2 linked regions of the Homo sapiens genome follow. The protein of the gene in region 1 purifies or fractionates together with the protein of each later gene. This does not show direct contact. Each region holds a gene or a part of one and is shown in the gene's direction. Other genes may lie near its edges.

The links.
Region 2: the proteins of ARHGAP25 (region 1) and KDM5C purify together in Homo sapiens (affinity purification with mass spectrometry; 3 studies listed by BioGRID and IntAct, with this or other methods). This does not show direct contact.

What each region holds. Positions count from the first base shown.
Region 1 is NC_000002.12:68,819,590-68,828,804, forward strand, and holds the end of ARHGAP25 (rho GTPase-activating protein 25), read left to right. Parts: intron 1-2,750; coding exon 2,751-3,283; exon of another isoform or gene 3,284-3,413; intron 3,414-6,397; coding exon 6,398-6,605; 3' UTR 6,606-7,244; downstream 7,245-9,215. UniProt on the Homo sapiens protein: GTPase activator for the Rho-type GTPases by converting them to an inactive GDP-bound state.
Region 2 is NC_000023.11:53,189,556-53,194,551, reverse strand, and holds the end of KDM5C (lysine-specific demethylase 5C), read left to right. Parts: coding exon 1-413; intron 414-700; coding exon 701-779; intron 780-915; coding exon 916-1,115; intron 1,116-1,219; coding exon 1,220-1,585; 3' UTR 1,586-1,714; coding exon of another isoform or gene 1,715-1,808; 3' UTR 1,809-2,394; downstream 2,395-4,996. UniProt on the Homo sapiens protein: Histone demethylase that specifically demethylates 'Lys-4' of histone H3, thereby playing a central role in histone code. Does not demethylate histone H3 'Lys-9', H3 'Lys-27', H3 'Lys-36', H3 'Lys-79' or H4 'Lys-20'.

The sequences.
Region 1 (9,215 bases):
AGAGAGACTCAAATACAGTCCAGAGAAGTTCAGTGGGAAAAATGTATACAACATTGTAAATGTTTTGGTCAGAATTGTTGAAAATTCTGGGTGAACGTCCAGAGAAAACTGGTTTCCTGCTAACCCATGAAACGTGATTCCTTTCTCAGAGTATGTGATGTGTTTGTGTAATATTTCTCATTCCTCGATAAGCCGTCTCAGCCATGTCAGCCCCCACATTTGTGCTGAAGGGTTGAAACTCACGTTCCCAATGTCCAAAAGCTCTGCTGACTCTGAAATGTAGACCTCGTGAGGACAATAATTTACAAAGGTCAAATATTTTTATATATTTATAGGAACAAATATTTTTACAAAGAACATGTGAACTTTATATAGTAGCTTGATCTTTATGTGTGGCCAAAAAATGGATTTCAAATTTCTAGTTGACCAGATGATTCAAGTTACCTACAGTACTGTTAGCCCTGAAGATTGTTTTTAAAAGGCAGGTAGTGGGTAGTGGTTGTAGTTTTTCTTAGGATAGGTCTTTCTGAAGGCAATGCATTCTACTAACACTCTAAAACTAAAATAAAATTTAAAAATGCTCATACTTCATGTAACAAGATCATCCCACAGTCCTTGAGAATAGCTATTATTTTACTCATTTAATAGGTTTCTGCCATTTACTGATTTCTGTGGGCAGGCACTATGCTGGGAAATTTACACTGATCACCTCTAGAGTCCTCATATTACATAACATTGTAGGGCAGAATTTATCATTCGTATTGTGTTATTGAGGAGCAGAAACTCAGAGAGGTTGAGCAGCTGGCCCAATGTAGTAGCACTAGCTTGTTATAGAGGAGGACTCAGATCCAGTCCTCCCTTCAGAACCCAGGTACCTCTAACTCCGGGTGGGGTTTCTGAAGCAAGCAATTGGCTGCAAAGGTTAAAGGGAGGGCTCGAACCTGATTGTCTGATTTTATGTTTAGGTCTCACTTGATCTTAGCCAAAAGGCCGAGAAGTGATTGATTTTGTGTTTAGGTCTCATATTCTCTCTCCTTTTTCTTTATAATTTCATTAAAAAATATATAATATATGCACATGGTTCAAGTAATCAAAAAGATAGAAAAAGGTATACGTTGAGAAGTTCTGCTCCCTCCCGTATCCCCACCCACCCCATCCCTCACTGCCTTAGTTTCTTATTTATCCTTCCAATGTTCCTTTATGAAAATATAAGAAGACATGAGTGTAAATTATTTACCTCCTTTTTTACACAAAATGTAGTATAATTCTCTCTCTCTCTACAGTCACACACATACACATACAGTCACACACAAACTCCCACACAAAACTATGTATCTTGCATTTTTGTACTTAGCAGTATATTCTGGAGACTTTTTCATGTCAATACATAAACAGCTACCTCATATGACCTCATGTTTTCTAGAGGTGTATAGTGTCCCATTCTGTAGATGTACCAGTCCCTATAGATGAACACACTGCCTTCAGTTCTTTTCTTTTTCTTTCTTTTTTTTTTTTTTTTTTTTTTGTGACAGGGTCTCACTTTATTGCTTAAGCTGGAGTGCGGTGGTGCGATCACAGCTTACTGCAGCCTTGACCTCCTGCTGAGGCAATCCTTCGGCCTCGGCCTCCCAAGTAGCTGGGACTACAGGTGCATACTACCATGCTGGGCTAAATTGTTTTGCGTATTTTTTGTAGAGACAAGGTTTCAACATGTTGCCCAGCCTGGCCTTGAACTCCTGAGCTCAAGTGATCCACCCTCCTCAGCCTCCCAAAGTGCTGGGATTACAGGCATCAGCCGCTGCACCCAGCCTTTCAGTTCTTCATACTACAAAAGAAGCTGCAATAAATAACTCTGGGACCTCCTTTTGTACTCAGGCAGATGTATTTCTCAAATGCATTTTCAGAAGTGGGCTTGATGGGTCAGAGGGTAAATAGATTTGATTGTATGATTTTGAGACAAATTATTGGAGTTTGTGTCATTTTACACTTCCAGAAGCAATGCATGAAAGAACTGTTTTCCTACAGTTTCACCAACAGAGTTTGTTGTCAAATTTTGGGGGTTTGCTCATCTGATAAGTGAGAACTGGCATTTCAGTAATTTTAATTTTAATTTGAGTTTCTTGTATTATGAGAGAGGCTGAACATCTTTTCCTATGTACAAGGACTAGTTTCATTTTTTCCTCTGTGAGCTGCCTGATCTTGTCCTTTGCCCATAATTACATTGGTTGTTGATCTCTTTCTTCACAATTTTTATGAACTTTATCTATTAAGGAGAGTAACCAATTGTCTGATATGCATTGCAAATACTTTTTGCTAGTTTTTTTTTTTTTTTTTTTTTTGGTTTGGCATGTGGTGATTTGTTCTTTTGTTTTTATTTTTGTTCTTTTTAATTTTTTAGGTCATGGAAATCAAAAGGTCAAATTTATCAAACTTTTACGGCTTCTGGGTTTTCAGTCATAGTTATAAAGACCACCCATTCTAAGATTACATAAGGATCCTACTTTAGGACTCTTTAACCACAAACAAACACTTGATTTTGGTGAGACTTCATCTCTAGAACATGGTTCCTTTACTGCAATATCCTTTTGGAAAAAAATGCTAATGCAGATAATCAAGTAATGTGATACATTAAGAATTTCATAGGTATGCTACCAGGAAACTTTTGTTTTGGGGTCTCTAATCCATACCTTGGGAGCATGACACACAGAGGTGAAAACCCCATGTGACATCCATGGCCATTTCTTTTCTAGACAAGCGACTCTGATACAACCAGCCCCACCGGACAGCAGCCGAGCGATGCGTTTCCGGAGGACAGCAGCAAAGTACCCAGGGAAAAGCCAGGAGACTGGAAAATGCAATCTCGTAAAAGGACTCAAACACTCCCTAACCGGAAATGTTTCTTGACATCAGCTTTTCAGGGTGCCAACAGCAGCAAAATGGAGATCTTTAAAAATGAATTCTGGTCGCCTTCCTCAGAGGCTAAGGCAGGGGAAGGGCACAGGAGAACGATGTCTCAAGACTTGCGCCAACTTTCTGACTCCCAACGGACTTCCACCTACGATAACGTCCCTTCCCTGCCAGGGTCCCCTGGGGAGGAAGCCAGTGCACTCTCTTCCCAAGCCTGTGACTCCAAGGGAGATACTCTTGCCAGTCCAAACTCTGAAACTGGGCCTGGAAAAAAGAACTCTGGAGAAGAGGAAATTGATTCTTTGCAGAGGATGGTCCAAGAGCTACGAAAGGAAATAGAAACACAGAAGCAAATGTATGAGGAACAGATTAAAAAGTAAGTCAGACAGAGGGGCACTGAGAGGCACTTGGCTTCCATCTTTAGAGACAAGAGGGATTGTTCCCATCCGCCAGAGAAGTCACATCATAAAGCTTCAATTTGGGGAAGACAGTAATCTATAGCAGGCCTAGAAAGAAAAGAGTAAAGGGAACAATGAGATAGCTAAATTGGTGAACACTCTAAACTTTAAACTAGATTTAGGAAATGTAAATATCTAGCTTAAGTAGTTTAATCAATAATTTCCAAACAGTGGTTCAAGAATCAACATGCTTTAATTAATTTAAAGGAAATTAATTTTTTTTATGTTAAGGTCATTCATTGATTCTGCAAATATTCCTCGAGCCCCTCCTCTGTGCCAGGCACATTCCAGTTGTTAGGGTATAGCACTGAACAAAAGAGACAAAAGTCCCTGCACTTACAGAACTTCTAGTGGGGACAGATGGACAATACAAATATATAATAAAATATATGTTATGTCAGCTGATGGCAAGTGCTGTGGAGAAAAATAAAGTGGGTCAGGAGGTTGGAAAGTTCAAGGAATGGGTTCCAATGTAAAATAGGGGGGTCAGGGAAGGCCTCCGTGAGAAGGCAGCAGGTAAGTAAAGGCCTGAAGGAGATGAGGAGCAAGTCAGGTGTGTAGATGGGAGATGACTATGGCCAGTGCCGAGCCATGAGAAAAGAGCAGTCCCCCATGGTCCCACCCAGGAAGAGTGGAAGCTGCCTGGGGCCAGGGAGAGTGATTAGAGGAGATGAGGGTGGAGAAGTACAGGAGGCCAGGACGCAGTAGGGTTTTGTCAGCCACTGCAAAGCCTGAGTAAGAAGCTTCGGGGTGGTTTCAACCTGGTTTATGCTTCATTGGCTCACTGGCTTCCCATTGAGCACCGGCTGCAGGGGGCAAACAGAAGCGGGAGGCCAGTTAGGCAGCTATTGCCTCTGTCACATGCAAATTCCCAAGATCTGTGCACACAATTTGTTCTCTTGGGTAGATAGAGTATTTTCTTGAAATATTTTTCACACTACTGATTGGCTGGCAAATTTGTTTTCAGGAGAGAAAGCCTTGATCCAGCTGTTCCCATATCAGCACTAGTCATGAGGCAGTGAAATGTGAATTCGTGGGCTCTTAGATTTATGGCTACGTCTTAGTCCATGCAGACTCAGGTATCTGAAGGGAAGACTACTTTGAACCCTCATTCATTGTTCCACACAGAGAGCTGCCATCCAGAAGCAAAATGTAGCTTGTTTGTCTAAGAACCTGAAACCAATCATTTGTAGAATTAAAGACTTCTGTGACATCTTGGCAGTGATCAAAGCAGTCCCATAGAAGGCACACACTGCCCTCACATATGAGTATCTTCAACAGGGTAGAAAAAGAACTGGCTGCCACAGATGTGTCAGAGTCCTCTGAATCCATCAGTTGGGGAAGCCTCCCATCCCAGGCTCCTGAGCCCACACAGATTCTACCTTCCACTGGAACCCATGGTCAGGATCTAGCACAGTGCCTCACTTGGAATTTCTTCCAGAACCAGAGGGGTACAGAGAACTTGGAGAAGAAAAGTAGATTTGTAATGAGAGGGTCAGAAGGAATGGCCGGGCGTGGTGGCTCACGCTTGTAATCCCAGCACTTTGGGAGGCCAAGGTGGGTGAATCACGAGGTCAGGAGATCGAGACCATCCTGGCTAACACGGTGAAACCATGTCTCTCCTAAAAATATAAAACATTAGCCAGGCATGATGGTGGGTGCCTGTAGTCCCAGCTACTCAGGAGGCTGAGGCAGGAGAATGGTGTGAACCTGGGAGGCGGAGCTTGCAGTGAGCCGAGATCATGCCACTGCACTCCAGCCTGGGCAACAGAGCGAGACTCCGTCTCAAAAAAAACAAAAGGAAAAAAAAAAGATGGAATGAGATCAATTTAGCTTTAAGAAGAGATAGGTGGGGGTAAGCAAAGTTCTGAAGATGGATTGTTACCCACAGAATAGGCCAAGGCCCTTGAAGATAGAACCCAAGTTTTGGGCTCACATGGGAGCTCAAGTCTCCCTTGTGCAAATGGGCAGGCCATTTGGGGAGAAGGGAGGCACACTCTACAGAATGAAATTCTGAAACAAATTTCCAGTCACACAATCGGCATGTGTACACTCATTCCTAAGGGTTAATTCAGCACAGCCTGGCAGGGGGCCACCTGGCACTACATTAGGATTTGGGCCAGTAACGATTAAAATCCTAGCAATTCAGGAATCCCACAGATTTTTCACCTGGCATGGGATTCAGAAGTGAGGGTGAGACTGCCAGGACCACAGCTCCCCAAAGGGCAGTTCCCTCTGTTTCTCCAAATCTTGGTCCCCAGGAGATCCTTAATAAGAAAGGGTGCTGATCTATGCTCTCCATTGACACAGGATGAGGAGGCACTCATGAGCACAGAGGTGTGAGAAATTTGAAATATGGATGGGGCTTCCAGGACTGATACAAGGTGCTGTGGGAGTGAATATATAGATCTGTTAGAACTGGTCCCTCCTTTCAAAGACTTTGTTATCCGGTTGAAGATACAAAACATTAAACGACATGAGAAAAAACACAATAGATGTCACAAGATGGTGTTAAATGACAAATGAGGGGGCTGGGTGTGGTGGTTCATGCCTGTAATCTCAGCACTTTGGGAGGCCAAGGCAGGCGGATCACGAGGTCAGGAGATCAAGACCATCCTGGCTAACATGGTGAAACCCTGTCTCTACTAAAAATACAAAAAAAAAGAAAAAATTAGCTGGGTATGGTGGCGGGCATCTGCAGTCCCAGCTACTAGGGAGGCTGAGGAAGGAGAATGGTGTGAACCTGGGAGGCGGAGCTTGCAGTGAGCCGAGATCGCGTCACTGCACTCCATCCAGCCTGGGCAACAGAGCGAGACTCCATCCAAAAAAAAATGACAAATGAGGGGCTCAGAAGTACTGTGGGGATTCAGGTTTTCTGGGACATCTTCATGTGGGAAGAGGGACATAGCTGAGAGGTTGGATAAGGGTCTTGTGATTTGAAAGGAAAATGAGCAGCAGGTTGTGAGCAAGGGGGAAGGAAGAGTCTAGAATGAATGCCACATTCTTTCATTCTTTTCTTTCCTTCCTTGTAGCCTTGAGAAGGAAAATTATGACGTTTGGGCTAAAGTGGTGAGGCTCAATGAAGAACTGGAGAAGGAAAAGAAGAAGTCTGCAGCCCTAGAGATCAGCCTCCGCAACATGGAGCGCTCCCGGGAGGATGTTGAGAAGAGGAACAAGGCCTTGGAAGAAGAAGTCAAGGAATTTGTCAAATCCATGAAGGAACCCAAGACCGAGGCTTAAGGGTCCCAGGAGTACTGCAGGGACAGCCCCAGAGAGGCCCAACTCTGGCCCCTTTCTCAGTGCTATCTGATGACGGGGAAACAAAATTATTCTCTGAGAGGGAAAGGACATTTGAGGGAAACATCAAATTTCCCCATAAATAAATGAATGGAGTTTGCAGGAAGGTGAGGGTGAGCAGAGATGTGTGTGGACATCTCTGACCATCCATCGCTGTATTCAAATGGATTGTTTTATTCCATTCTGGTCTCAGGCATGACCACGTCCAGTGAAGACATTTGAGGCAGCACATCTCAGGACCCAGGCAATAGACTGGCCCCAACTCAGGCTGGACTAAGGTGTGATTAATTCTTTGTTTTTTGTGTGGAACAGCTCACCTTGTCAGACAGCCTCAGGGCATCTCTGAGACACAGGGGCAGAAAATGACATTCATCTTTTGAGTCCTCATCCATGGAGTGCTGTGTTTGGGGGGCTGCATCTGCTGAAGCGAGAACCCCATTCTGCCACCCCACCAGGATGCCCATTCTCCAGGACTTCTCCAACTTACTATTAGACTAAACCAGAACAAGCAACAAACTGTATTTATGCAAGCAAAATTGATGAGAAAATTATATTCAAATAAAGCAAAAATTAAAAAAAAAAGGCTATTGCTAATCCATACGGCACCTTTGTGAGAATTAGCAAAAGACACTCCTTCCTTGGGGCAGGTGGCTTGCTGAGCAGGGCATGGGCTGAATTTCAGTCCTGACTTGCCTTTCAGGGACAGGTGTTTCTATACTTGCGGAGCCCCCATTTCTTCTGTATTTCACACAATTGCTGTGGGAATTACATGAGAAGAGGTAATCTAGTCCCTACTTGCTTTTTAATTGTGTATGGAGGGCCTGGGAACAAACGCTTCCTACTATGATAGGATTTGTTGTGGTTTTAGACAGTAATTTTCATGATAATAGTTTCTTTTTTCCTGTTTCACCAAAATGCAAGTGATTTTACCCTTAAAGGGACAACAGGCACTAGATGATAGGTGGGAGAGGGGCTTTCCCAGTGGACAGCTGATTCTTCCCCTTCTATGTCAAGCCAGCTTGGCAGAGGCCCTGGTCAGGCCCCGGACCTCTAGGTAGGTTGGTTGAGTCTTTTTTTGTTGTTATCATTCTAATTGGATGGTCTCCAAGCTCTTTTGACTGGGTAACTCATCAACAGAAAATGTTTGAGCATACACCCCCCAATATATTTATTTATTTATAAATTATATATATGTACTACTATAGTACTCCATAATGTATATTATAAAATTCACAGAACAGTAACTGAATAATGATGAGATAAAAACAAAGATCAATAGATGTTCCCAAGTGTGCTTTCAGCTCCGGAGACCCCTGACCCAGTTGCCCAGGAGGTATTACCTGTACCAAATTTATATCTTTCATCCCACTGCTCCCATAAATGTGCTTGAACTCTTGAAGCCCCGTGGCTTAATCAGTGGTTTGGAATCTATGGTTGCTGCAGTGAGAGTTTAGCCTTCCCAGCACATGGGCCTCCTCTGTCATTCCTTTTTCTCTCTGTCTTCTTCACTCTGGTTAGTCCTCCCTTCCTATGGCCAGGACTTATTACCCACAGAGTGAAAGTACAGACAGTAGCATCAGCATTTCTTGGTCCTGCTACTCAGGCCCTGCTCTACCAACGCCAGCCCCTTTGAGGACCAGATTGATGGAGAAGGAGGGCGACTCCTACGGCATTCCTATCTAGGCCTGCTTGCAGAAGATTGAGGGGAAACTCATCTGGAACATTCGTAAGAAAAGCAATAAAATATTGGGATTCCTGAGTTTTAGGTGTTTTTAAATAACAGGATAGCAAACATGGAAACACTTATTGACCACCTGACTTACGTTGGCGAGTGCCTGCATTTCTGCCAGGCACATATCCTTGTGTTCTCCCACGGATTCCTCACACTGACTCTTTGGGGGCTAAAACAGAGTTGAATATGGAAGTGGCTGCTGTCACAATTTCCAAAGAAAACATTTGTCTGAAGATGCAAAGAGGAGGCTCTCAAGTCTGTTTTGAGGCCCGTGTCATTGGCCCTTACTGGGTCCGGGAGCCAGAGCTCGTGCTGAGTGGAAGTGCCACGTTTGAATCCCAACTACCTCCTGGTCTGGCAGTGTCTCTCATTCTACTTTTTTCCACCAGTATTATGAGACAACAGAGCAGCTGTTGGCCTCAGAAGCACTAGACAGCCTAGCCTGCAAGTGTCAATCCCTCTTCACAATCAAGAGAAGAGTTTGGCTCGCTTAAGTTGCTACTATTTGCTCCTGTGCCACCTTGCATACAAGGAGAAGACAAGAAACAGGGTTTTTTTTTAGGACCCTGGGACCTTATGAGTGCAAGGGTCACACAAACCCCTTCATCCTGCTGAAAAAGGCTGGGAGGAGGGAGCCCCTGAGGGCCAGAAAAGAAGATCTGGAGTCTGATGGCACTGTTTTAATGCCCTCAAAAGGCATGCATGTGATTGCATGACAGGGTAGCTCCAGGTCTCACCTGGACCAAAGGACCAGGTTCTAGAAGGCAATATCTGGAGACTGACCTGTGTCAAGGGGTGCTGTTGGACTCTGCAGCTCCTAC
Region 2 (4,996 bases), on another chromosome or scaffold:
TCCATGGGCGGTGTGTGTCAGTGCCTCGCCTCCTCAGCTCTCCGAGGCCCAATCCCACCTCATCCCCACTGCTGGCCTGGTGGGAATGGGACACCAAATTCCTGTGTCCACTGTGTATGCGCTCAAGGCGCCCGCGCCTGGAGACCATCCTGGCACTGCTGGTAGCCCTGCAGAGACTGCCTGTGCGGCTGCCCGAGGGCGAGGCCCTGCAGTGCCTCACAGAGAGGGCCATCAGCTGGCAAGGCCGCGCCAGGCAGGCTCTGGCCTCTGAAGATGTGACTGCTCTTTTGGGACGGCTGGCTGAGCTCCGCCAACGGCTACAGGCTGAACCTAGACCTGAGGAGCCTCCTAACTACCCTGCAGCCCCTGCTTCTGACCCCCTCAGAGAGGGCAGTGGCAAGGATATGCCTAAGGTGAGCTACTCAGCCCAGCTCTTGTCCTCAGATTCTTGTCTCCTAGCCCCTACCCCAGTTTAGGCTCGGCCCTGCCCCTTGTTCTCCAATTTTCAGTTTTCTTTGGACCAGCCTTCCTACTCCATTCTGCATCTGTCCAGATTCCTAGACTCTGCTCCCTGCTGGCAGCCTGTGTCTTCCCTCCTCCTCCAGAAGGCGGAGGGTCTCAAGTTTGGGGTTGGCGGAGGAGGAATAGGGCCTGGTTCTTCACTTCAGTTGCCCCTACCTATTCTTGCTCTCCTCCGCAGGTCCAGGGCTTACTGGAGAATGGAGACAGTGTGACCAGTCCTGAGAAGGTAGCCCCGGAGGAGGGCTCAGGTAAGAGAGGTAGGTCTAGGTGTGGTGTGGGTAGGCTGTTGACTGCACATCACCATAGTGACCCATGTAGTCCTCAGCTCTGTTGTAGTGGTGGGGATAAGACCAAGGGCAGCCTCTAATGCCGCTTGTTCCTGCAACCTCCTAGATCTGGAGCTGCTGTCCTCGCTGTTGCCACAGTTGACTGGCCCTGTGTTGGAACTGCCTGAGGCAACCCGGGCCCCCTTGGAGGAGCTCATGATGGAGGGGGACCTGCTCGAGGTGACCCTGGATGAGAACCACAGCATATGGCAGCTGCTGCAGGCTGGACAGCCCCCAGACCTGGAGAGGATCCGCACACTTCTGGAGGTGAGGAGAGGGGTCATGGGCCGGGCCAGGAGGTCAGGCCGAGTAGGGAGCCCAGGCCTGACCACTGGCCCACAACCTGTCTTTCTGCCTGTCTGTAATCACAGCTGGAGAAGGCAGAGCGTCACGGGAGTCGGGCTCGGGGCCGGGCCCTGGAGAGGCGGCGGCGGCGGAAGGTGGATCGGGGTGGGGAGGGCGATGACCCAGCCCGAGAGGAGCTAGAGCCAAAGAGGGTACGGAGCTCAGGGCCAGAGGCTGAGGAGGTCCAGGAGGAGGAAGAGCTGGAGGAGGAGACTGGGGGTGAGGGCCCCCCTGCACCCATCCCCACCACTGGCAGCCCCAGCACCCAGGAGAACCAGAATGGCTTGGAACCGGCGGAAGGGACCACTTCAGGCCCCTCGGCCCCTTTCTCCACTCTGACTCCCCGGCTGCATCTGCCCTGCCCACAGCAGCCGCCTCAGCAACAGTTGTGACAGTGGCTGAGCCTAGCACAGACCCTGACAGAGACCCCCCTCGGCCTCAAGGATCCTCTTTCTGACCATCAAGCCTGCTTCTTGGGGGGTGGGCGGGTAGGGGGGTGGCCATCCCTGCTACCCGCCCACCCCTGAGTCCCTTGACTTTTGTATTCTGACTCCAAGGTATTGTTCAGACCTCAGCTCCTGGGGGCCGGCCCCTGGAGTCTTCCCTCCCTGGTAGCCTCTAACCAGCATTCCCAGACACCTGAGGCAGATAGATGGATGGGCTGGTGGGCAGGGGGGTGGCTGGGGCTGGGCCATCACCATTCCAGAGACAAGGCCAGTGTATATGCAAACTGGGGGACTCTCCTCCCTTCTCTCCCCAGTTCTGGTCCTGGCCAGGCCATGCTACACTAACCCCTGCCCCCACTCTCCTCCCCTCTTTTCCTTCCTTCCTACCCCCTTCTCCCTCTCCCTTCCCCTGACTGTTCCACCCAGGAGGAGGAAACTTCACATAGCCGTGCTCACAGTTTTTTATTTTAAAGGAATTTGGCTGGGGAGCTGAACAGGGCTCCCTGTGATCTGAAGAAAGCTTTTGGTGCTTGTCCTCACAACCACCTCAGTCCTCCCTCCCTGTCCTCCCCTGTCTCCTTTCCTCCTCCTGGGTTCATGTTGTAATAAAAGAAGATTGTTGGTGTGTAATTAATTTGTTCAAAAGAAAAAAAAAAGCAAAACAAGAAACTTGGTTCCAACTGAAGCCTATTTTAATTTTATTTTATTATTTTCCTCTTGTTAGAAATAAAACCCTTAGAAACATTTTTTGGAAACATGTTTCTGAAGTGCATTTCTCTTAGACGGGGAAGACAGTGCTTCCATCACCAGTCAGTGGAGCAGCTGTAGTGCTGGCAGGAGCACTAGGGCTGAAGCCAGGGAGCTCTGGGTTCTGAAATCAAGTTCCACCAGCTTCTTAACCTTGGGCAAGACATTCTGATCCTCCCCCGACTCTAACCCCAAGCCACTTTCCCTCAAGTCCAAACAGATGGGCTCGGGCCCCCTCACCCAAACTCCTACACTACAACCTCCCCCAGTTGATGCCCTCCAGTTTATCCTCCTCAAGCTCCCAAAGGGATTTTTTTGTTAATGGCTTTATTGAGATATAATTTACATACTATAAAATTCACTTGTTTGAAATGTACAATTCAGTGATTTGGGGGGTTTCTAAAGTGTAGATCTGATTATATACTGCTTAAAACCTTCCATGATGCTTTATTGCCCTTAAGATTATACATAGAATCTCGTTCTTCCTAGAATGTTTTCCTGTCTAACCCATCTACTGCATAATTCCCTGATTTTTCTCCACAGGTTATGCCCCTGATGAATGGGGACTAAAGCTCAGATGTGTGGTCATTTGCAACCCCTGAGTTCACTTTTTTAAGACAGCTTATTGATATATATAATGTACATACCATACAGTCACCCACTTAAAAGTATACAATTAAATAGCTTTTAGTATATTCAGAGTTGTGCAGCCATCATTCGAAAAAAAATTTCAGAACATTTTCATCACTGCAGAAAGAAACTCCATATCCCTTAGGCGTCCTTTACCCCTCATCCCATTTGCCTATTCTGGACATTTTACATAAATGGAATCGTATAATATGTGATCCTTTGTGTCTAGCTTCTTTCACTTAGCAAAGTGGTTTCAAGCCCATTAATGGTCCCATAGTAGTTGGAAAGATCTCTCTTCTGAGTCCCAAAGTCTTTAAGATGAGGGTGCTGGACTAAATCAGGGACCATCAACAGATTGTTTACATGTTTTTGTGGGTGTTTGCATGCATGTGTTTTTCTGACAAGAAGACTAACCAGCTTGTATCAGATTCATAAAGGGATCCTTGACCCTCCAAAGGCTAAGAACCATTCTTTGTGGTCTTGAGTGTTCTGTGTTTGGAGTCTGCCCATGATACGAGGATACAAAGGAGGAAGCAAGAGTATGGAAGCCCTAAGCCAGTCAGCTTCCTATCATGCCTGCCTCAAGGGCTTTCCGTCCTCTCAAGGGGCTGTGAGGAGGCTAAAGGCTGGGTCCTGATCCCTAGCCCAGGAGCTTAGCACACTGCCACTCTTATTTTGCTTTCTCATCTGAACGTTCATGGGTTTCATTCCCCCTTCCCAATATTTGCAGCTGATAGGAACCTAGTGGTAAATAAGAAAGCCCGCCCTCTTCTGGCAGCTTTGATTGGTGGGAAGGTCTGGCTCAGCCCTGCTTCATCTAGTCTTCCAGTTGGGACCCTAGGCTATACAAGTAAGGAGAGAGAGAGGAGTCCGTGGACAACCCTGCCGGGTCCAGCTTGACCCCAGGTCTCAGTCTAGGGGAAAAGGCTGACCTTTTGGCTGGAATTGATCATGAAAAGGGGGTTGGAGGAGCTGACAGGAGAGATGAGTGTGAGAGCTGGGATGGGCAGGAAGGGGCTCAATCTCAGCACTTAACTACCACTGCCAAGGCAGTCAGCCACAGGAAGTGTCCAGACAGGAGAGGAAGAGATGGTGCCTACAACCTGAAGCAACTCCCAGGTTAGAGAACTGCTTGGCCCAGGACGGAGGCCTCCCTGGTATAGGCCCATCCTTCACCAGTTTTCAGACAGCCTTTACCATGTTGGCACGTCTGTGTCCCATCCCTCACACACTCCTTCACAGCAGACATGCATTCCATGAACTCTGCAGGAGAGGCCCTGGCCATCATCCTGCAAGACCCAGATCAAATCTAACCTCTTCCAGAGAGCTTTCTCTGGTTCCAAATCTGCCCTCTTTCCCAGATACTCCCCTAGAAAGGGAGGGGGACTGGCTCAGGGGACACCCTCCCCCTCAGATAAGGGGCTGGGGAGAATGAGGTCAGGGAAGCAGTGGGTATCTTCTCACCTCAAAGTCATTTTCTATTATAGAGATATCACCTAGCTGCCGAGTCCTCCCAAATGTTGCCACATCCCTCAGGATGGCTCCTGAATCTGCAGGTGACAAGGGGATGGAAAGAGACATCACTTCTATTAAGGACTTTACCCAAACCCTTCAGGCCCAACTGAACCCTTCTTCCCCTTCTCCTTAGTGTCTCCACCTGTGCCTTACCTGGTGTCTGAAACACACTAAGATTAATAGGTCTGTCTCTCCTCCCACCCCCAAGCTCTGGAGCTTCTGGAGGGAAGGCAAGGCCCAGGCCTCAGTCTGTCTCCACTTCCAGGCCAAGGGCCCGCAATCTAGCTTAGAAGGAGGTAGGAGCATCAGTTGGGGCTCCACACTGTGCATATGACTCTGTTTCCTTTGCATTGCAGAGTCCAGTGGTACAGGATACCACCCCTTGGGAGTGGCGCCTGGGGTCTGAGGTACATGGTCAGTGGGTCCTTGAAGGGGCAGACACTAACCATGCTTCCCAGAAGACCT